Homo sapiens: one gene and its partners. The protein of the gene in region 3 interacts with the protein of the main gene of each other region in a pairwise test. Each region holds a gene or a part of one and is shown on either strand. Other genes may lie near its edges.

Region 1 (7,000 bases), on a different chromosome or scaffold from region 3:
ATAGGAGGCCCTTGTATACCGGAGGGCCAAACTGGGAGGGATCTAGGGTCAGGTACAGTTCATTGCAAAGTTAAGTAGAAATGGCTTGTGGATTATTTTATTTTATGTATTTATTTATGTAGAGACAGGGTTTCCCTCTGTCACCCAGGCTGAAGTGCAGTGGTGCAATCACAGCTCACTGTATCCTCGACCTCTCAGGTTCAAGCCATCCTCCTGCCTCAGCCTCCCAAGTAGCTGGGACTATAGGTGCACACCACCATGCCCAGCTAATTTCTTTAAATTTTTATTTTCTAGAGATGGGGTCTGTGTTGCCCAGGCTGGTCTCAAACTCCTGGACTCAAGCAATCCTGCCTCCTTGGCCTCCCAAAATGCTGGGATTACAGGCATGAGCCACCACACATGGCCTGGATTATTTTTATTATTATTATTATTATTTTTTTGAGACGGAGTCTCACTCTGTTGCCCAGGCTGGAGTGCAGTGGCATGATCTCAGCTCACTGCAAGCTCTGCCTCGCAGGCTCACGCCATTCTCCTGCCTCAGCCTCCCGAGTAGTTGGGACTACAGGCGCCCGCCACCATGCCAGGCTAATTTTTTGTATTTTTAGTAGAGACGGGGTTTCACCATGTTAGTCAGGATGATCTCGATCTCCTGACCTCGTGATCGGCCCACCTCGGCCTCCTAAAGTGCTGGGATTACAGGCGTGAACCACCATGCCCGGCCTCCTGGATTATTTTAAATTCACTGTGGTAGATCCCATTGGCAGCCAAATTAGGATAAGATGTGACCTCAGTGGGTAAAATGACTCTAGGACAGGTGAATGGCTCTGAAATCAGGTGACAGGTCAGACCAGGCACCACATGGGGGAGGGCCTAGGTAGAAGAGTGAGTGTACATGTGTTAGGTGGGGCCATGGGTGGGCCCTGCAGGGTGGCCTCACCTTGGCCACCTGGCCCCGCAGATCATGCAGCTCGCCCTCCAGCGTGCGCTTCTCACTGAGAGCAGTGCTCAGTGCGGCCTCCTTGGAGTTCAGCAGAGCCTCCAGGTCCTTCAGCCGAGCCTGAGCAGCTATCAGGTCACCCTCCTTCTTGGTATTGCTAAAGAAGAGAGGGGAGAGTAGATTTAAGAGAAGGAGTCTGTGTGCCTAGACAGTGCCAGGCTCCCAGGAGGTCAGCCATGGGGGCTGGCGCTGCTATGCCTGCAATTACCAGGAGAGGGCATCCTTGCATTAGGTTGGTTTGCATCTGCTTGCCTCTGGGGCTGGGCTCCCACCTCCCCAAGGTCCTTGAAAACCCCCTTCCTGCTTCTCCACCCTTCCCATGACTCAGGGCTCAGGAACGTGCCTGGGGCCAAGGGCAGAGCTCTACCCCGTGATATGAATGCTTTTCCCTCTCTCTCCTCCCATTCTTTCCCAAAGAGACAGGGGTACCTTTGTCTCCTGCCCCTTCCCACACAGGGCCTTACTTAGCCTTCTCCCTGGACTCTACTCACTTCCCTTTGGCCAAGCTTCCCTCCCTCTGAGGAGCCTGACAACTAAGCTCATGGCCCACATGTCCCTAGCACTTCTCGATCTGAGCCCCAAAGGTACTGGTCACCTCTCCTAGTCCCTTTTACACATGTGGGACTGTGGGGAAGGAAAGTCTGGTTAGAGCTCAGAGGGACCTCAGACAAGGATGACCAGGCACAATATTGACCCTTTCCTTTCTCAGGACCCAGTCTGGGTGCCCTGATCTGCACTGAACAGAGGGGTCCCTGCCTCCCTCCCTCCTGCCTCATCCGTGCCCTGGGAGAAGGCTGAGCCCTACCCATCTACCATAGCCTCAGCATCTGGTTCCAGATGTGGATCCCAGGCCTCCAGGTCCATCTGGGCCCCAGCTTTAAGCCTCCCTGCTCCTCAAAGTGGGTAAAGCTTTAGCTATAACCAGTCGAACAGCGCTGCCTCTGCCACCTCCCTCACCTTTTCTGGGCCCCTGATTATTTTTGCTAGTGGACTGGAGAAATAGAAAGGTCCTATTTTCTTAAAAACCTCCAGAGAACCCAAGAACTTTCTAGATGTTACAATTGCTTCACAAATATAGGGTGAGAGAAAGCAGCAGACCCAGGGAGCGGAGGGAAAGATCCAGAGGACCTGGTTCCAGCTGCCATCTGTAACTCATCAGTGCTTAAGCATGAGCCCACCACAGCAGATGGAAAAAAGGAAAACCAAGCGTGGGCAGAAGGAAAAATCTATCCTGGAAAGGAGAAAAGCAGCCCTGCCAACATTTTTCTTCTACCACAAAAGTCCTAAACTCCAAGAGGCCCAGCAATTCACTGTGAAGAGGGATAGGGAAGGCTAGATTTGCAGAAGCTCTGGAGGACGAGACCCAGGCAGTGTTCTGCTTAGGAGAGTCCAAAAAAGGAGTCACCCCCACCTCCCCCCACCAGGCAGGGAGGAGGATAGAGTGACACTCAGAGGGGCAGGGGAAGGACATGAGAAGCCAGAGGAAGCTCCCCCAGCCTGCACACTTGCTCAGTCCAGGCCTCTGGCCACACCTCAGAACAAGTTGTTTAATGTAAGTGTCTGTCTCCTGCAAAAAAGAGCCCCTTCCAGAACCGGAGAATGTATTCCCTCCTCTGTCTCAGTCAGAAAAGCTAAAAATAAAGTCAAAACCCAGCTCAGGTTTTGGCTGCCATCCGGCCTAGCCCCTGGCTGGGAGCACAGCCCCAACTTTCCATGACTTCAGAACTTTTCCGAAGCTGAAGCAGCTGCAGGGGGAGGAGGGAAAATGAAGAAAAACCGCTGGTAAAGTGAAGCAACTGGGGCAACTTAGATTCCGAGCTCCTTGGGCTGACCCCCAGGCTGGCTGGGGCTTCCCAGAAGAGGCCTCTCTACCCTGAAGGCTAATGGCTGCTGCTGGCTGTACTAGGAGGCTCTCAGAATTTAGAGAACTAGAAGGAGCTTAGAGTTGATTCAGCTCAACCCTCTCCCTTTTATAGATGAGGAAACTGAGGTGCAAAGGAGGAAGGTGAATGGCCCAGTGTCAATTACCGAAAGCCAGCAGCAGCATTCCAGTCAATTCTAGCTGCTGATCTAGGGTTCCTCCTCCTCCACCTCACTGCTTTCCTAAGCCACAAGTTCCAGAGAGAATGGAGAAGCCAGGAGGAGGAAGAGGGCAGACACTATGGCACAAAGCGTTTCCCTGACCAGCCAGCCTGAGCTGAAAGAAGCTGGAAGGCAATGGGATGATTTCAGAAGGTGTCTCAAGGGCACCTTTTCCCTAGTCCTGTCTCCCCAGCCTCCTTAGGTGCCAGGAGGAATTCCTGGAGTTCCCCCTGGTAACAGCCTTTCCTTGCCAGTGCCTGGCAGACACTGACTGAGGAAAACATAGATGCATGATCCCTGTGCTCTGCGAGCTTATGGGCTGATGAGCACAGAAGTTTTTTCTTCAGTCTAACCTCTTCACCTTCTGCTGCTTGCAAAAGCGGTGGTGGCAGTGATAATAATAATATAATAGCAAACACTTATATAGAGCTTATTAGGTACCAAGCACTGCTCTAAATATTATGTTAACTCACGTCATCTTCACAGCTACCCTATGCGATAGGTGCTATTCCTATGCAATTGAGGAAATAGGCACAGAAAGCTATATCTAGGGTCCCGCAGCAAGTAGATAGGGGAGCTGGAAATCCATGCTGTACCACTTTGGCACAAGCCACAGTATATGGTCTCCAAGGAAAGTAAGGGGGCTGGCTGAGTGTGGTGGCTCACACCTGTAATCCCAGCACTTTGGGAGGCCAAGGCAGGTGGATCACTTGAGGCCAGGAGTTCGAGACCAGCCTGCCAACATGGTGAAACTCTGACTCTATCAAAAATACAAAAATTAGTCGGGCAAGGTGGTGCACGTCCATAGTCCCAGCAACTTGGGAGGCTGAGACACGAGAATTGCTTGAGCCTGGGAGGCGGAGATTGTAGTGAGTTGAGATTGTACCACTGTACTCCAGCCTGGGTGACAGAGTGAGACTCTATCTCAAAAAAAAAAAAAAAAAATTTAGCTGGGTACGGTGGTGTGCACCTGTAGTCCCAGCTACTGAGGAGGCTGAGGTAGGAGGATCACTTGAACTTGGGAGGCGGAGGTTGCAGTGAGCCGAGATTGTGCCACTGCACTACAGCATGGGTGACAGAGCGAGACTCCATCTCAAAAAAAAAAAAAAAAAAAAAAAAAAACAGTAAGGGGGTTATTTGTCTTTCCCTGGTGGAGGTTTTGACTAGCACTGCAAAGAGAGGAGATTAAAGGACTAAGACACACCCTGCAGATGAGAAAAACCACGAGCAGAGAGGGAAGTGAGGAAGAACCTTTGTGGTTTTCTTAGGCACGGGGAGCTCCCATCTGCGGGGAAGAAGCCACTATCACCCATGGGCTCATGACTCAGACCTTGGGAGCTCTGTGGCCAGGGAGCCACACGCACACCCCAAGAGATGACTAGGGGTACAGTAGAGCCCAGTGTCTCTCCTCCCTCCTCCCTGCCCCCGCCCCCAAGTGCCATTTCCTTCCTAGGAGGGGTCCTCAGACCTAGCAGGGACCAAAGTAGACCCTAGCCAGGCATTCGGTCCCAGGGTGGTGGTGCAGCCCACTCCACTGGGGGTTGGCATCAGGAAAGCTGAGCACACGCTGAGTGCCGTCCCCGTGCTGGGTTGGCAGGGAGGACAGGGTGGGGCAGGCCAGAGGAGCTGGGAAGGGTGGGAACCTGGGCCCCTCAGGTGACTCATGCTCAGGCACACAATACCCGGGCAGGGGTCGGGAAATCCTCTAGTGCTCACAGGGGAGACCCTGGCTTCGCCCGTGTCCTGCCCCAGGCCGGGTGCTGTGCCAGCAGAGTGCCAGTCCTTTCCCTTGCATCCTCCAGGTTCCCCAAGCACAGGAGTGGCTGCATCCCAGTGGCCTCTTGAGGCGAGAAGGGCTGGGCATCCTGTTTCTAACTCTTCCCATCACTGGCAAATCTGATCTCAGAAAGAGGGAAGAGAGGGGGTGGGGAGGGGAACAGAGAGGAAAAGAATAAGGTAGAAATGAGAGTTGGCACTTGCAAATGTGACCCAAGGCAGGGGTCTGAAGAGCTGTGCCTGGTGGGACAAGGAAGTCCGGCTCCCCAGCTGCAGCAGGCCCGGGCCCTTGGGGCTGTTTGGGGAAGAAAGGCACCAGCACAGCAAAGGGGCTAGGTGGGCACCGGGCCAGGCGCTGACCCACCCTCTGAGTCACCCTGCTCAGCCCAACTCTGATGCCAGATATGGAAGCCAGGGCCGGCCACAGGCCTGTTTGGGCCCGGTTGCTGGGGGCAACAGGCTAGGCCCGGAGGGAGAGGCCTCCGTTTCCTCTCCCAATCTGGGGGAGAAGCAAGAGGGACAGACACTGTAGCTAAAAATAACAAGTGGGAGGGGAAGACAAAGGGGAGGTGGAGGAGCTGGCCCAGCCCTGCAGGGACTCCTTAGACCCACTCCTCAGCAGCCCTGCTCACCAGCCCTCAGAGTTCCCCATTGCCAGGCAGCACACAGGAAGGGAGCAGAAGAGCAGAGGGTCTCCCAGCCCCTGGGCATTTCCTGTCTCCCAGGAACATCGCCCCCTGTGGCCGGGTGGGTACAGGGAGTCCGCCTGGTGGCAAATGCTCTCCTGTATCCTCCTGGGCATCTAATTTGTTTAATTTTAATTTAAAATTTTTAATTGTTTAATTTTAAAATTTTTCATTTATTATTATTACTATTATTATTATTTTGAGGTGGAGTCTCATTCTGTCGCCCAGGTGATCTCACTGCAACCTTCACCTCCCAGGTTCAAGTGATTCTCCTGCTTCTCAGCCTCCCGAGTAGCTGGATTACAGGCCTGCACCACCATGCCTAGCTAATTTTTCTATTTTTAGTAGAGACGGAGTTTTGCCATGTTGGCCAGGCTGGTCTCGGACTCCTGACCTCAGGTGATCCACCCGCCTCCACCTCCCAAAATGCTGGGATTACAGTCATGAGCCACCGCGCCCAGCCCCTATTATTATTATTTTTGAGACAGAGTCTCACTGTGTTGCCCAGGCTAGAGTAGAGTGGCGCGATCTCGGCTCCCTGCAACCTCCACCTCCCAGGTTCAAGCAATTCTTGTGCCTCAGCCTCCAGAGTAGCTGGGATTACAGGCGCCTGCCACCACACCCAGCTAATTTTTGGCATTTTTAGTAGAGATAGGGTTTCGCCATGTTGGCCAGGCTGGTCTTGAACTCCTGACCTCACGTGATCCTCCTGCATCAGCCTCCCAAAGTCCTGGGATTACAGGCGTGAGCCACCACACCCAGCCCCTCCTGGACACCTAGACCTCTGCCCAGGCTGACTTCCCGCCATGTGACAGGGCGTCTTCTGCTGCCACCCCAAGCCACTCCTACCACCCCTCCTTTTGTTCCAGCAACTCCTCCTACTGCAATATATCCTCCTTCTCTCTGTCCCTCCCTCCCATTCACCCAAAACCTCCCTACCCCTCAGCCTACTTGAGCCTGTCTCAGCTCTGCCCTGCTGATTTCAGCCAGTGTTCTACCTGTTGGGTCGTGGGGCTTTTTCTGTGTGTCCCACAAATACCCGGAGACTAGACGGTTCACAGGCTCAAGGCTTCTAGAGGAACCTTCTCTTGAACCAACTCCTATACTTTTACAGGGGGAAACTAAAGCCTGGAGACGGGTAGGCTCAGGCACTAAAAACCTGCCCCCAGGTCACCTGAGGACACTCACAGCAGATTGGTGCAAAACATAGAAAATGGCACGATACACACAGACACTGCAGAGAATAACACAGAGAGACCCAGTAAGACAGTCTGGGAAGCGTGTCTGCCTCTGTCTCGCTTGCTGGGAGATACCCCAGTCAGAGAGTGATACGGAGGCCTAGTGAAAGTGCCACTCCCACCCACCCTCAAATATACACATACTCACACCTTTGTGTGCGGCCAATCATGAGGTTTGATAGCCCCTACCTCCCCCCCAACCCGGCAAAGTAACCACTGCT
Region 2 (7,728 bases), on a different chromosome or scaffold from region 3:
AGGTTGAACCGGAGGACATTATATTAAGTGAAATAAGTCAGGCACAGAGGACAAATACTACATAATCCCACTCATATATGGAACCTAAAAAAGTTGTCTCATAGAAATAGAGTGAAATGTTGGTTACCAGAGGCTGAGGTTGCCAGGTGGTGGGAGTGGGGCAATGTTGGTCAAAGGATATAAAATTTCAGGTAGCTAGGAGGAATAAGTTCAAGAGATCTATTGTACAACCTGGTGACTGTAGTTACGGTGTATTCTTGACAAATGCTTAAAGAGTAGATTTTAAGTCTTCTCAACACAAAAAAGATAACTAAGGCTGGTGCCATGGCTCACACCAGTAATCGCAGCACTTTGGGAGACCAAGGCAAGGAGGAGTGCTTGAGCCCAGGAGTTTGAGACCAGCCTAGACAACATGGTGAAACTCCATCTCTGCAGAAGATACAAAAAACTAGCTGGGTGTTGTGGTGCACGTCTGTAGTCTCAACTTCTCGGGAGGCTGAAGTGGGAGGATGGCTTGAGCTCAAGAGGTCAAGGCTGCTGTGAGCCACGATAGTGCCACCGTACTCCAGCCTGGGTGAGAGAATGAGACCCTGTCTCAAAACAAAACAATGTGAAGTGATGCATATGTTAATGAGCTTGATTTAGTCATTCTGAAGCAGGATATTTCCCTGACCCCTTCTTGGATGGGAACTAGAGTACATGGGCGCTGTCAGGGACGAACTCCACTCGCTTGTTGTTCCACCCCTCATGGGGAGGGGAGCACAGGTGAGTGGGTGCAGGAGACAGGGTGAGGGCTTTTGGGTGCTGGCAAGAGCAAATTCCATACTAGCCCCACGGCAGTGTCTAGGGGAAGGTGCTGTGACCCCTGAAGCCCCTGACGAAGTGTTACAGTGCCCTTTTAGCTTTGCCATCCATGCATAGCTTAAGTGTTAACAGCTCAGTGGAGGGTCAGTGCGACAGCCTTTTGTACCCACACTCATGGCACCCAAGTTTTTGTCTGGCATCCAGGAGGAATGAGGTCACACAAACAAATTGAAGATGGTAAATGCAGGGGATTTTATTGCCGGTGAAAGTGGCTCTCAGCAGGAAGAGGAGCTGAAAAGGGGATGGAGCAGGAAGGTAATCGTCCCCTGAAGTTTGGCCATCCCTGGCCATCCTCTCCAAAGCTACGCTGTCAAGCTGTCCCTTTGAAGTCAGCCTGCTTCTCTCCAACATCCAACCATAGTCTCCAATGTCCAGCTGCTTTTCTTCTCTCTGCCGGCTGAGCCTGGGGTTTTTATGGGCATAGGATGGGGGGCAGGGTGAGCCACGGGTGGTTTTGGAAAAGGCAACATTTGAGTGGGAAAACAGGGATGTAAGTTCTCACTTTGGGCCGTGGTATCAAGATTTTCAGCTTGATGGACCTGGCCTCTTCTGCCCAGAATTTCCCTACCTCCTGTCCCTATCAATTCCACAATGTATCTATATTTCAAAACATCATGTTGCATACAATAATTATATATTATTTTATAAATTTAGAAAAACAAAAAAATGCAGCTATAAGAAAATAATAAAATAAAATCAAGTAGGCAAATGTTACTATGGTGTGCTTTCATGTAAAAATCATAACTATTCCCTCTGAGGCGGTACTTGCTGAGTTAGAGTCATTGTATATTTTGACAAACATCCAAAAGACTGCACAGAGGTGTCTCTTCCCTGCCGCCCCACAGCAGTGTTTGTAAGATTCTTGTGATGATGGTGTTGGTAATGACAATAGCTTTTATGCACCCAGCAGGAATTCTGTCCTGGGCCCTGTTATCTACCATTGTAACCACCCAATGGGTTCTTTTTGCCTGCTACAAAAAGACCACGGCATTGCAGTAAACAAAGTCTTTAACTGACACAGGGCCAGCCATGCCATGGGAGAAACAGAGTTATTACTCAACTTGATCTCCCTGAAAATTCAGTGATCAGAGGTTTTCAGGGATAATTTGGTGGGTGGGGGGCCAGGTAGTGGGGAGTGCTGATTAGTTGGGTTAGAGATGAAATCACAGGGAGTCAAAGTTGACTAACTGCACTGAGTAAATTCCAGGGTGGGGACCACAGGACCAGATGACCCAGTTTATCAATCTGGGTGGCACTAGCTGATCCATCGAGTGCTGGGTCTGAAAAATATCTCGAGCACCAATCTTAGGTTTTACAATAGTGATGTTATCCCCAGTAGCAATTGGGAAGGTTTAAAATCTTGTGACCCCTGGCCCCTGGCTGCATGACTCCTAAACCATACTCTCTAATCTTGTGGCTTTTGTTAATCCTACAAAGGCAGTCTGGTCCCCAGACAAGAAGAGGGTTTGTTTCAGGAAAGGGCTGGGTTTTTTTGTTTGTTTTTGTTTTTGAGATGGAGTCTCGCTCTGTTGCCCGGGCTGGAGGCGATCTCAGCTCACTGCAAGCTCTACCTCCCGGGGTTCATGCCATTCTCCTGCCTCAGCCTCCTGAGTAGCTGGGACTACAGGTGCCCGCCACCACACCTGGCTAATTTTTTGTATTTTTAGTAGAGACAGGGTTTCACCATGTTAGCCAGAATGGTCTCGATCTCCTGAACTCGTGATCCGCCTGCCTCGGCCTGCCAAAGTGCTGGGATTACAGGGGTGAACCACCATGCCCGGCCTAGAGGGAAAGGGCTGTTATCTTTGCTTCAAAGTTAAACTGTAAACTGAGTTTCTCCCAAAGTTAGTTAGGCCTATGCTCAGGAACGAACAAGGACAGCTTGGAGGTTAGAAGCAAGATGGAGTTGGTTAGGTCAGATCTCTCACTGTCATAATTTTCTCAGTTATAATTTTTACAAAGGTGGTTTCACCATATGACATGTAGTATCGGGGGAACCCACCCCCGATAATTCAATGTGGGTTCTTTTCTATTTTCCCTAAGTGTCGGCTGGTCTGAGAAATAAAGGGAAAGAGTACAAAAGAGATAAATTTTAAAGCTGGGTGTCTGGGGGAGACATCACATGTCAGCAGGTTCCGTGATGCCCCCGAGCCATAAAACCAGCAAGTTTTTATTGGCAATTTTCAAAGGGGAGGGAGTGTACGAATAGGGTGTGGGTCACAGAGATCACATGCTTTAAGGGCAACAAAAGATCACAAGGCAGAAGGTCAGGGCGAGATCACAAGGTCAGGGCAAAACTAGAATCACTCATGAGCTTCCATGTCCTGCTGTGCACGCATTGTCATTTATAAACATCTTAACAGGGTTCAAGAGCAGAGAACTGGTCTGACTAGAGTTCGCCAGGCTGGAATTTCCTAATCCTAGCAAGCCTGGGGGCGCTGCAGGAGACTAGGGTGTGTTTCATCCCTATCTACATGTGCATAAGGCAGACACTCCCAGGGCAGCCATTTTAGAGGCACTGCCCTGGGAATGCATTATTTTCCCAGGGCTGTTAATTATTAATATTCCTTACTGGGGAAAGAATTCAGCGATATTTCTCTTACCCGTTTTTGGTAATAGGAGAAATATGGCTCTGTCCTGCCCGTCCCACAGGCAGCCAGACTTTAAGGTTATCTCCCTTGTTCCCTGAAAATCGCTGTTATCCTGTTCTTAAGGTGCCCAGATTTCATATTGTTCAAACACACATGCCCTACAAACAATCTGTGCAGTTAACGCAATCATCACAGGGTCCTGAGATGACATACATCCTCAGCTTACGAAGATGACAGGATTAAGAGATTAAAGTAAAGTCAGGCATAGGAAATCACAAGAGTATTGATTGGGGAAGCGATACATGTCCATGAAATCTTCACAATTTATGTTCAGAGATTGCAGTAAAGACAGGCATAAGAAATTATAAAAGTATTAATTTGGGGAACTAATAAATGTCCATGAAATCTTCACAATTAATGTTCTTCTGTCACGGCTTCAGCAGGTCCCTCCGTTCGGGGTCCCTGACTTCCTGCAACAATGTAGTGTTATTTTTCCCATTTTATTTACTGGATTTCAATGAGAGTCCCTGCTGTAAAGTTGGAGCCAGCATTGGAGTCCCCAGAGGGCTTGTTAAAACAGAGAAGGAGGCCTGGCACCATGGCTCACTCCTGCAATTCCCAACACTTTGGGAGGCCGAGGTGAGAGGATCACTTGAGCTCAGGAGTTTGAGACCAGCCTAGGCATCACAGGGAGATCCAGTCTCTACAAAAAATTTTAAAATTAGCTGTGTATGATGGTGCACGCCTGTATCCCATCTACCTGGTAGGCTGAGGCAGGAGGATAGCTTGAGCCCGAGATGGAGGCTGCAGTGAGCTATGATCAGGCCACTGCACTCCAGCCTGGACAACAGAACGAGACCCATCCCCCCCGCCCCCCCCGCAAAAAGTAGAGAAGGCTGAATCCCATCCCCAGAATTTCTGAGTCCTTAGATTTAAGTTGTTGCCCCAGAACCTGCATTTTCAGCCAGTCCCCAGGTGATGCTGATGTTGCTGGTTTGAGAAGCCCTGAATCAGAGCGACATTTAATATTACAACGCAAAGACCCCGCCCATTGGGTACTATCCCCATTTTCCAGTGTGAATTTAGGTCCCTTAGGGGTGAAGCGGCTGGCCGATGCCCACACGCGCAGGAAGAGCACTGGGGCTCTCCTCCTGGACCTCGGAGGGTGGGCGGGGTTTAGCGCGGGCGGCTGCAGGCTCGGGAGCGGCCCCTTTAAGGGGAAGGCCCGAGGGCTGCAGGCGGCGGCGGTGGAGACCCGACGAGATCCGCTCTCCTTCCCGCCCTGGACCCTCAGCCTGACGAGAGGCTGGGCAGAAACTCGCGATCCCCAGGCCCTGCCTGTGCACCAGCGGCTGGCGCCAGGCCAATGACAGTACGGGAGAGGGCAACTCTCCCGGCCGCCACGGTGGGGGCCGGAACTTCCTGCACTGCAGCCTCGCAGGTCATTTCCCGGCGGGGAGGCTGAGTCCCCAGGAGCTGGGGACCCCGAGTTGGGGGCGGGGCGGCTGGGGCTACGCCCGTGAAGCTGCCCCGCCGGCTTTCCCGGACCGCGAGGGGGACAGTGAGGCCGGGACCCCCTCCGCGCCTTTGCACCAGCCGTGACCCCTTGCAACGGGGGTACCCAGCGGAGCTGCGCGCTCTCGGCGCCCCCGGAGCCTGCGCCCCGGGCCCCTTGCGCATTTTGCACGGGGGAGACTGAGGCTAGGAGTGCGACCCTCAGCCCGGGGTCACACCTCGTCTGGGGCACGGCCAGGTGGGTGGTAGCCTCAGCCTGCGAGACCCCCTACCCCCGCCCCGTGGTTTCCCGCACCGTGGGGCCCTGCTCTGACCACAGACTCCGATGGCAGCGGCGGCGCTGCGGGACCCCGCGCAGGTGAGTGCTTGGACGTTAGGCCCTTCGCTGTCGGCCCCCCACGCTTCTGTTCTCGGTGTTGAGACGCAAAAGATGGCTTTGTTCTAGGACTTTTCGCCTTTCCCATTTCCTTGCTTTTGAGTCAGGGGACCCTGGAAGGGAGTTGCTCCCAGCTAGGATCCTGAATCAGGGCAGGGTTTATATAAAGTGGCTTCCGTTGCTGAAATGTAATGGGATGGAGGGAGAAAGGGCTTTGTAGGCACAGGAACCAGCGTGCGCAAAAGCTTGGGGGTGGGGTGGGGCACGGTGTGGAGACTGAGTTGGGAGTGTTCAAGGAACCCCACCCAGGTCAGTGTTATTAATATTATGTCTGCTGGAACCAGAGAGCAGGTGGGCTGAAGACAGCTCAGAACGGCAGAGCTGGGCCTCTGTTCTGAGGGTGTTGGGAGCCATGGAAGGTTTAGGGCAGAGGAGGAAGATGCTGTGACTCAGGTCTTAACAGGCTCCCTGTGGATGCACAGTGGAGAACTGAATATGGAGTGAGCCGCAAGCAGGGATGCCAAGGAGTAGCCTAATGGAATAGCCCAGGCCAGTGCTGCGGCTGGCCGGACCAGAGTGAGGACTGGAGGTAGAGGAAGTGATTGGGAACTTGATGTCTTTTAAGTCAAGCTGACCAAATTTTCCGATGTGGAGGGTGAGAAAGAGGAGGGAAGAATCCATGGTTTTTGGTTTGATGAATCCAGCTTTATGAACTGAGAAGTTGGTTTTAGGAGGAATTTTCCATGGAAGCAGTAGAAGTTAGGTTTTGGCCAAGTTGAGCCTGTGATGTCCCAGAGACCCCCAAATGGAGTTGAAGAGTGGGCCGCTGAACACACAGTTCGGGTGTTCTGAGGGAGTTGTTAAGGTAATGAGAGACTGGATATTCATTCGAACAATGGCCAGATCATGTATACAAATAGAACTCTGCCCCAGAACCTGCCCAGGAAACCAACCCCCTTATCTACAATAAACAACCCATACAGCAGGAAGCCAGCCTGCTGTCTGTCAGACCCACAGGAAGCCAGATTGCTATCTGGACTGACAATCCAGGAAGTAAAAACAATAACTTCTGTAATGAGCAGTCCCAAATGGCCAGGGTTTGATTAATAACAGACAGCTTTCCTCATTTTTGCTCCTGCTTCTGATTTAAGAACAACCAGAGAAAGGCAGATACGCACCCTAACCAATCACATAGGATGCCCACTTCTAGTTCACCCACCTACGAACAGGAGCCTCCAACCAGGGCACGCCTGAAGCCTTCCTTTTCTTTTGCTATAAAACTCTCCCACTCCCGGCTTGCATTGAGTCTCTCTTGCTATAGTGAGCTTTGAGTAAGTAGCCTTGGCTTTTCTCATTTCATTGGTCTTTGTTTATTTCAACAGTTAGAAACATCCAAAATGTGACATCTGGTGTGTGGACGGGAGTGTAGCTGTGTGTGAGATTTAGGAGGTGAAACTTCAGGTCATGGTGACAATGATGTTAAAAAAAAGAGGAAGGTGGGGCTGGAAAACTGAGAGCAGGGTTCTTGCTTGGGGACTGTGGCTTGTTTGGCATCATAAAGACAGGTGAGGAACAGTAGTGGTCATGGTGGTGATGGAGGGGCTATGTGGGTGTATCAGAGGGTCTGGCAGGTGGCCAGATCATCCCAAAGAGTGTAGACATGAATGAGATGGATGCTGAGGCTTAGCAGTAGAGGAGGTAATATTGCAGTGAGGCCTGGGCTGGTGCTTACACACTCACCTATGTTCTCACCAGGCTTCTGTGGTGACCCTTGATGGGGTTTGTCCTCAGGCTGGGGAATTAGCTTGGGGCAAGAGGAGTCAGTTGGCAGAGTTGCTGGGCTTAGGTGGGTGGGGGTAGGATGGCCAGAGGGGTTGGCTTTTTTTTTCTTTTTTAAATGAGTGTGAGTGATGACAGGGTCAGAATGTGCAACAAAGAAGGCCAAGTGTATGTGACATCCATGTGTGCCGTGGGTGGCTTAGGTTGAAGCCAGGCCAGGGGAGCTAGGGGGCTCCAAGGCAAGGGTGGAGCGCTCCCTCTCCCCCTTACCTGGGTGTTGCCCTTGGCAGTGGAGGCCATCAAAGGTCTGGGGCAGGCTGGGATGGTGCTTATGTTTGCCAGGCACTCTCTGGATGCCATGTGCAGAGTGACTCGTGGGAGCCCATGGAGATGGCTAGGATAGGGGCCAGGATGGGGAGAAGGTAGCAGTGGCAATGGGAGGCCGTGGTGAAGGTCTGGAGCTGTGAGGGTGGTGCAGTCCAAAGAGTGAAACGCACGTGGGAGGGAGTATGAGCTGTTCACCCCAGGGCTCTGGACTGGGGTTTAAAGGAGAAGCCCACATTTGTATCTGAGAAGCATGACATTGGTGACACTAGGGGAAGA
Region 3 (7,205 bases):
GACAGGGTTTCACCATGTTGCCCAGGCTGATCTTGAACTCCTGACCTCAAGTGAGCCGCCTTCCTCTGCCTCCGAAAGTGCTGAGATTACAGGCATGAGCCACCACATCCAGACTTCCATCATATTTATAGATACATATATACGTGTGTGTTTGTGTATGTGTAAAATAACTTAATCCTCCAATAAGTCCCCAGGCCATTTTCTCTGCGGAAATAAGTATGAAGTAATAGGGTACCCAGTAATATTATGAAAGAAAAAAAGAGCATAACCTTTTTCTTGATGTTAGGTTACTCTTGTATAAAGGAAAATCCCATAAGTAAAAAGAATTCTGGAGCCAATTCAGATGATACAAATGTAAAAAATTTTCAGTTACCTAACACCTGAAAACATGTTTGATTTAACCAGTTGACTTCTAACCATCACTGTGTAATGTGACCTGCTAAAGTAATCTTTCAGCTGTCAATTTGATGTCTTTTTTTTCTTTTTTTTTTTTGAGATGGAGTCTCACTCTGTCACCCAGGCTAGAGTGCAGTGGTGCCATCTCGGCTCACTGCAAGCTCTGCCTCCCAGGTTCAGGCCATTCTCCTGCCTCAGCCTCCCGAGTAGCTGGGACTACAGGCACCCACCACCACGCCTGGCTAATTTTTTTTTTTTTTTTTTGTATTTTTAGTAGAGACGGGGTTTCACCGTGTTAGCCAGGATGGTCTCGATCTCCTGACCTCATAATCCACCCATCTCGGCCTCCCAAAGTGAACAGTGATATGCACAGAATGATTTGAAACTGTCAGTGTCTCTCTCCCTCTTTTTTTAACTTTGGTTCTGTGTTAACCAGATCATGTCTAACAAAGTGCTTCAAAAGTTATTTCTAACCAAATAATATTTAAATCACAGTGTATCTCATTTAAGTACAAGTATTTTAAGTTAACAGTTTCCTCAGGAATATTCTGTCTTCTGACACCATCATTTGAATATCACAGTTTGCAAAGACCTTTCCATATATGATTTCATCCAGTCCTTCCTACAGCCACTCAAGATAGGTAATATTCCCATTTTTTTTTTAAAGGTAAGAAAACAAGATTGGTCCTGAAGCCAAGTGTTTCATGACCAAAGCCCACACTCTCCTCATGAAATTGAGAAGGGACAGGCTGTGGAGTGAATCCTTGAAAGCAAGTAATGTTTTAAGTACTATTACAATTTGTAGATTGTGTTTCACAGGCTCCCAATGAGCTAGGAGGGAAATGTTTTTAATCCCATGTGTACTCATTCTGAAGTAGCTGTAAGTATATAAAAACCATATTCATCTACACACTCATTCAAACCTTTATTAAGTACCTACCATATGTACAATACTGTTCCAAATATTAAGGGAATACAAAGATGAATTTTTAAATGGTGCCAAATCCCAAGGAGTTTACAATATAATAATAGTAAAAAGTAATTTAACACGAACTGTAGGAAGAAAATTACAAGTAAACATTTGCCCCTGATGGAGAAAAATGACCTTATTTTTAAATTTAAAGCATAAATTGCCAGTTTGGAAACACTGCTATTACATACACCTGTATTAGTTCATCCTTTTAAAATGATGCTGATTGTTTTTAGAAAAGAAAATGTCTTATGCTATATTATCTTTATGATTGGCTTCAAATTTTAAAACAAAAATTTGCTTAAAGAAAAAAATATAGATTTATAAAATCAGATTAACACTGTACACAGAGAGATAAAGTGTGTTGGCAATAATATGTAAAAAGTTGAACACAACTGGGTCTAGCAGTGAAGAGTTAAATCTGAATTACTTTGGAGACTTGCCCTAGCCAAGTTATTATGCACAATTTCATCATATAAAAAAAGGGATACTTGCCCCTAATTTAGATTATAACTCACACATGCCATAATTACTTCCATCTGTAATAATACATAGGGTTAAAAAAACTAGTATAAAAACTTTCCTAATAATTTACAAATCAAAAATAATTTGGACTAGAACTAAGGATAAAAAGAAAAAGGGATGATGGTGTAGACAATTTAACAGTAAACTCTCAGTGCAAAAATAAATGTAAATTTGCAAGTATCCATTTTTTTCTATACTTTTTTTTTTTTTTTGGAGACGGAGTCTCGCTCTGTTGCCCAAGCTGGAGTGCAGTGGCGCGATCTCGGCTCACTGCAAGCTCTGCCTCCTGGGTTCATGCCATTCTCCTGCCTCTGCCTCCCAAGTAGCTGGGACTACAGGCGCCCACCACCACGCCTGGCTAATTTTTTGTATTTTTAGTAGAGACGGGGTTTCATCGTGTTAGCCAGGATGGTCTCGATCTCCTGACCTCGTGATCCACCCGTCTCGGCCTCCCAAAATGCTGGGATTACAGGCATGAGCCACCATACCCGGCGTTTTTTCTATACTTTTAAAAATGGCTCAGAGCAGCAAAACAAGTTAGAGGATTTATTCTGTGAAATGCACTGCAGAGAAAAAGAATGGGCAAATAGTATAATTAAAAATAGTTATTGATTCACACTTTCCAAAATTTTTAAAAAGTAAACCACCAAAGACCAATACTTCTCTCTCCTTTCAATACTAAGCCATTTTTTCCAGTAAAATTAATGAAATAATGTATATTTTTATAACTAATCAGTTTGTGACAGCTGTGGTTCTCACTTTTTAAAAATACAAAATCATAGTTGCAAACAGATAATACACAATGATTTTTAAAACTGAATAGGCAAAGCCTTACTCTAACTGATCAAATGACCAATCAGCTGGATTCAGGCTTTTCAGGCTACAGATGACTTTGATCAACAGCCCTGCACATATCAGAAGCGTCCCCACAGATGTTCTAAACACAAATGCGGCTGCTGACACCCTGACGCTGCAAACAACAGCAAGGGCATAGAGAGGAGACCTTGATGATTCAGTGTGATTCTTCAACAGATTTCTCTTCTTCACTTTCCTCATTGGCTTCATCTTTTTCCTTGTAAGAATCCTGGCTGTTGGTATCAATAAAATAATTTTCTTCCCCATTCTCTCTTTCTTCTATTTTTTCTTCTTCATTAAAGCTAGGGGAAGAAATTTATCAATCTTTCAAAGGAAAAATGAGTTGGTTTAAAGGTAAACAAACCCTCTGCAAGTATGCCACCGTGTAGCCAGTCTTCCTCAAGTGTATGAATTCCAATTTGTTACCAAGACAACTCAAAAAAAAGAAGAAAACGCTATAAAAGTGCCCATTGAGAAATTTAATATTCCTGAAAACTAATTTATTTCAAAATTTGAGTGATTGTTTCTTTAAACTTCATTTGAAAGCATGCTATTATTTTTGTTACTTATGTCTTTAAGAAATCTGTTATTCTGCTTTAAAAATAAAATACTTCATGTGAACGTTAATGTGTCAAACATGTTAAAATATCAGTGTGTTTTACAACAGTTCATATGTCTTTTACTATTGGGTAAAAGATCTTTTTAAAACAATATAGAACAAAAAATATACATAGTATAAAATTGTGCTTTTCTGCAGGTAATAATTTTTTCAAAGGTAAGCCATTCAGACATCTTATATATGTTACCTTTCTTTGTCTTCAGTGACACTTTTCGTCTCTTGATTGTTGAAGTACTCAAGTACTTTTCCACTTTGGCCTTTCTTTGAAACAAACTCATCAGATATTCCTAGTGCTTTTAGGGTATTAGAATAATGCTTTTCTGCTGCCATTCTTGCATTTTTCTATAGGAAAGACAAACCTTTTTAGACGAGAACAGAAGACTTTAAATTTTCATCAAAAATGTATAGATTAGGCCAGGCGCGGTGGCTCACGCCTGTAATCCCAGTGCTTTGGGAGGCCGAGACGGGTGGATCACGAGGTCAGGAGATCAAGACCATCCTGGCTAACACGGTGAAACCCCGTCTCTACTAAAAATACAAAAAATTAGCCGGGCGTGGTGGTGGCCGCCTGTAGTCCCAGCTACTCGGGAGGCTGAGGCAGGAGAATGGCGTGAACCTGGGAGGCGGAGCTTGCAGTGAGCCGAGATCGCGCCACTGTACTCCAGCCTGGGTGACAGAACAAGACTCTGTCTCAAAAAAAAAAAAAAAAAAAATATGGATTAAAAGTACTGGTGATAATTAAGTTCAGCAGTCACAGTTGTTTGAAAATCTGCATACCCTATGACCAACAATTACACTCCTAGGAATATAACCAGAGAAGCTCCCACATATGAGTCCCAAGGGAGGACATGTTCAAGAATGTTCAGGATAGTACTGTCCTTCAATAACCCCAAATGGGAAATCACCCAAATATCTATTAGTAGCAGAATGGATAAATAAATTGTGGTCTATTCCTATAATGGAGTGAAACAAAGCAAGGAAAATGAATGAACTACAGTTACATGCCACAACATGGATAGATCTCACAAATATAATACTGAGCAAAAGAAGCAAAGCACTGACAAGTACATATTGTATGATCTATATAAAGTTCAGAAATGGGCAAAACAACTATATTGTTTGAGGATAGGTACACACACTGTAAAATTGCAAAGAAAAACAAGGAAGTACTTATCCTGAAAGTTAGAATGGTGGTTACCTCTTGGGGAGAGGTAGAGGGCTGTGATCTGCAATGGCACATAGGGTTTTTGGGGTGCTGGCAATGGTCTATTTGTTAACATGGGTGGTGGCCACATTAGATTGATCTATAATTATTTTTTATATTGTACCTAGGTTTTATATACTTTTATGACTGTATAAAGATATCTGAAAAAAAAAAAAAGATTTCATGCAATAATTGTTGTCAGAGGATTCTTTTTCCTTTTTTTTTTGAAAAAGGGTCTTGCTCTGTCACCCAGGCTGGAGTGCAGTGGTGCAAACACAACTCACTGCAGCCTCAACCTGCTGGGCTCAAGCGATCCTCCCACCTCAGCCTCTGGAGTAGCTGGGACCATAGGCGCGTGCCACCATGCCCAGCTAATTTTTGTATTTTTTGTAGGACGGGGCGTCACTATGTTGTCCAGGATGGCCTTGAATTCCTGGGTTTAAGTGATCCACCGGCCTTGGCCTCCCAAAGTGCTGGGATTACAGGCATGAGCCATGGCACCCAGCCAATTTCTTTTATTTTATGTATCTACTGTAATTTTTACTCTTTATAAGCCATATCCCCAATCCATTAAAGATGATAAAAGCACCAGTGTTGTAATCTTTACTCTGTGGAGGAAGCAAGGGATATAACAAAAAGAATATGAATTTAGAACTGGGTTCAAATCTGTAGAATGTCACTTCCCGGCTTTAAGATCTGTTGGAATTGTGATGACCCTCTCATCACAGCTCCAGAGATGGCAGGCTTTATGGAGCCACATAGTGACTGGGTTCACACTAGTGCCTCCACTTTAGCCCATTTTAGCTCCCATGAGTGGATCTGAACTGTTAGAGGGCCAAGAATTGCCCTCTGGACCTCCAACTAAAGCTAAGACCTCCAAGTAAAGCAAGCATTCCTAATACTAGGAATGGCCCAGTTCCAATGTACCAATGGCATTCATACTGGGAAGGGTGTGGAGGAGTACCCAGTCTAACCCCCATATTTAATAAAGAAACCAAGTCTCCCCCGGCCCCCGCCTCAAAGGTGAAATTGACTAAGGTCACAAGGCTAGTGAGTGGTAGAACCAAGTCTCTTGACCATTTCCTAGGTCTTTTATATTACATCATGCTACTTTCTCTAAGTGGTAGTGGTCGTCAAGAGTTTGAAGGTGACCTAAAGCCTGACTTGAGCAACGTAGTTGTCAGATATTTGCCAAATCTAGTATAATGAGGGGCCATGGAGTCTAGTGTTACACAGGAGAACCTGAAATAGCAAGGACTGATTACAATAGATAAAACTATCACCAGGGCATTTCCTGATACTCTGGAAAACTGAAAAAGAAACACTGCTGCTAAAACGCACTCACTGTGAATAACAATAATATTTTTTAGAAAAGTAAGTAAAAACCCATCCAGAGTCTGTGAATATCAAAAGACAAGTCTTGGGGAGCTGAAAGGAAGGGCAAAATGAGAAATAAGAACTATACCCTAAAGACTGCAGAGAAGAATAAAGAAACCCCAAACCTAGCTCTGAATGCATTACCAACAGTATATTCTGACTTCAGCAAATTAAATATATAAGACATTAAAAAGACATTAGTCAAAATTTGTGCCAGTAAGCCTTCATCTGACTTTGGTTTAAAATTCAATTTAACATCTTCTCAGTTAATTAATCCTGTGATTTCCAAGAAACAGGACAACATAGTTTATTCTGTAAAGAATCACAGGCATATTGTGTTAGGGAATCACTCAGCAGCAGCGAGACCACAATTAACTCCTATAAATGGGCAAAGCAAATAGCTGCAAGCAAATTTATTAAAAACCAGCTGTTAATTAGCAGCAATAGTTCCAGCAAAATAGACTGCAGCAAAAAATGTACTAAAAAAAAAAAGCAATGGCGATTCACTGCCATGGTAACTCTGTTTATACTTTTTGAGAAGTTAATGAGAAGACCCCTTGATATCATTCATTGAAAATGAGAATAAATGGAATTGGTGAGAATGGATGATTGTCCCTGTTATAAAGGCTTATTAATTGTCTACCCAGGGTTAACATTTTAGTAGGGGAATGAAAATGGTAAGGCGAAGGTATAATGAATGGTTCTGCAAAGAGCAAGGCAGAAAAATCAATCAAACTATTATGATTCAGATAGGAAATAAAGGTTCCACCTGGCATTTCACCACCAAGGATGGTGAAGGGCAGATCCAAAAATTATTTAGGAAGAAAATTTGACAGGTCTCTCAATGACCAGCTGAATGGGGAGGAACTGGGTACACACAGATATGAAGATGAGAACAGTAGGCCAGGCACGGTGGCTCACTCCTGTAATCCCAGTACTTTGGGAGGCCGAGGCAGGTGGATCACTTGAGGTCAGGAGTTCAGGACCAGCCCGGCCAACATGGTGAAATCCCGTCTCTACTAAAAATACAAAAAAAATTAGCCGGGCATGGTGGTGTGCACCTGTAATCCCAGCTACTCAGGAGACTGAGGCAGGAGAATCACTTGAACCCAGGAGGCAGAGGTTGCAGTGAGCCGAGATCACGCCACTGCACTCCAGCCTGGGTGACAGAGTAAGACCCTGTCTCAAAAAAAAAAAAAAAAAAAAATGAGAACAGTAGACACTGGTCTCAAACTCTTGGCCTCAAATGATCCTCCCCC

Evidence for each region. Proteins that work in one complex are often made in the same cells at the same time.
Region 1: the proteins of FAM161A (region 3) and LMNA interact in binary tests that used the Homo sapiens proteins (3 or more experiments, as listed by UniProt).
Region 2: the proteins of FAM161A (region 3) and ZNF792 interact in binary tests that used the Homo sapiens proteins (3 or more experiments, as listed by UniProt).

What each region holds. Positions count from the first base shown.
Region 1 is NC_000001.11:156,124,711-156,131,710, reverse strand, and holds part of LMNA (lamin), read right to left. Parts: intron 5,542-7,000; exon of another isoform or gene 5,508-5,541; coding exon of another isoform or gene 5,488-5,507; intron 5,157-5,487; exon of another isoform or gene 5,060-5,156; intron 4,976-5,059; exon of another isoform or gene 4,909-4,975; coding exon of another isoform or gene 4,796-4,908; exon of another isoform or gene 4,762-4,795; intron 1,885-4,761; exon of another isoform or gene 1,862-1,884; coding exon of another isoform or gene 1,803-1,861; intron 1,095-1,802; coding exon 938-1,094; intron 1-937.
Region 2 is NC_000019.10:34,961,230-34,968,957, reverse strand, and holds the start of ZNF792 (zinc finger protein 792), read left to right. Parts: upstream 1-4,728; 5' UTR 4,729-5,295; coding exon 5,296-5,328; exon of another isoform or gene 5,329-5,532; intron 5,533-7,728. UniProt on the Homo sapiens protein: May be involved in transcriptional regulation.
Region 3 is NC_000002.12:61,823,552-61,830,756, forward strand, and holds the end of FAM161A (protein FAM161A), read right to left. Parts: intron 3,708-7,205; coding exon 3,553-3,707; intron 3,049-3,552; coding exon 2,904-3,048; 3' UTR 1,297-2,903; downstream 1-1,296. UniProt on the Homo sapiens protein: Involved in ciliogenesis.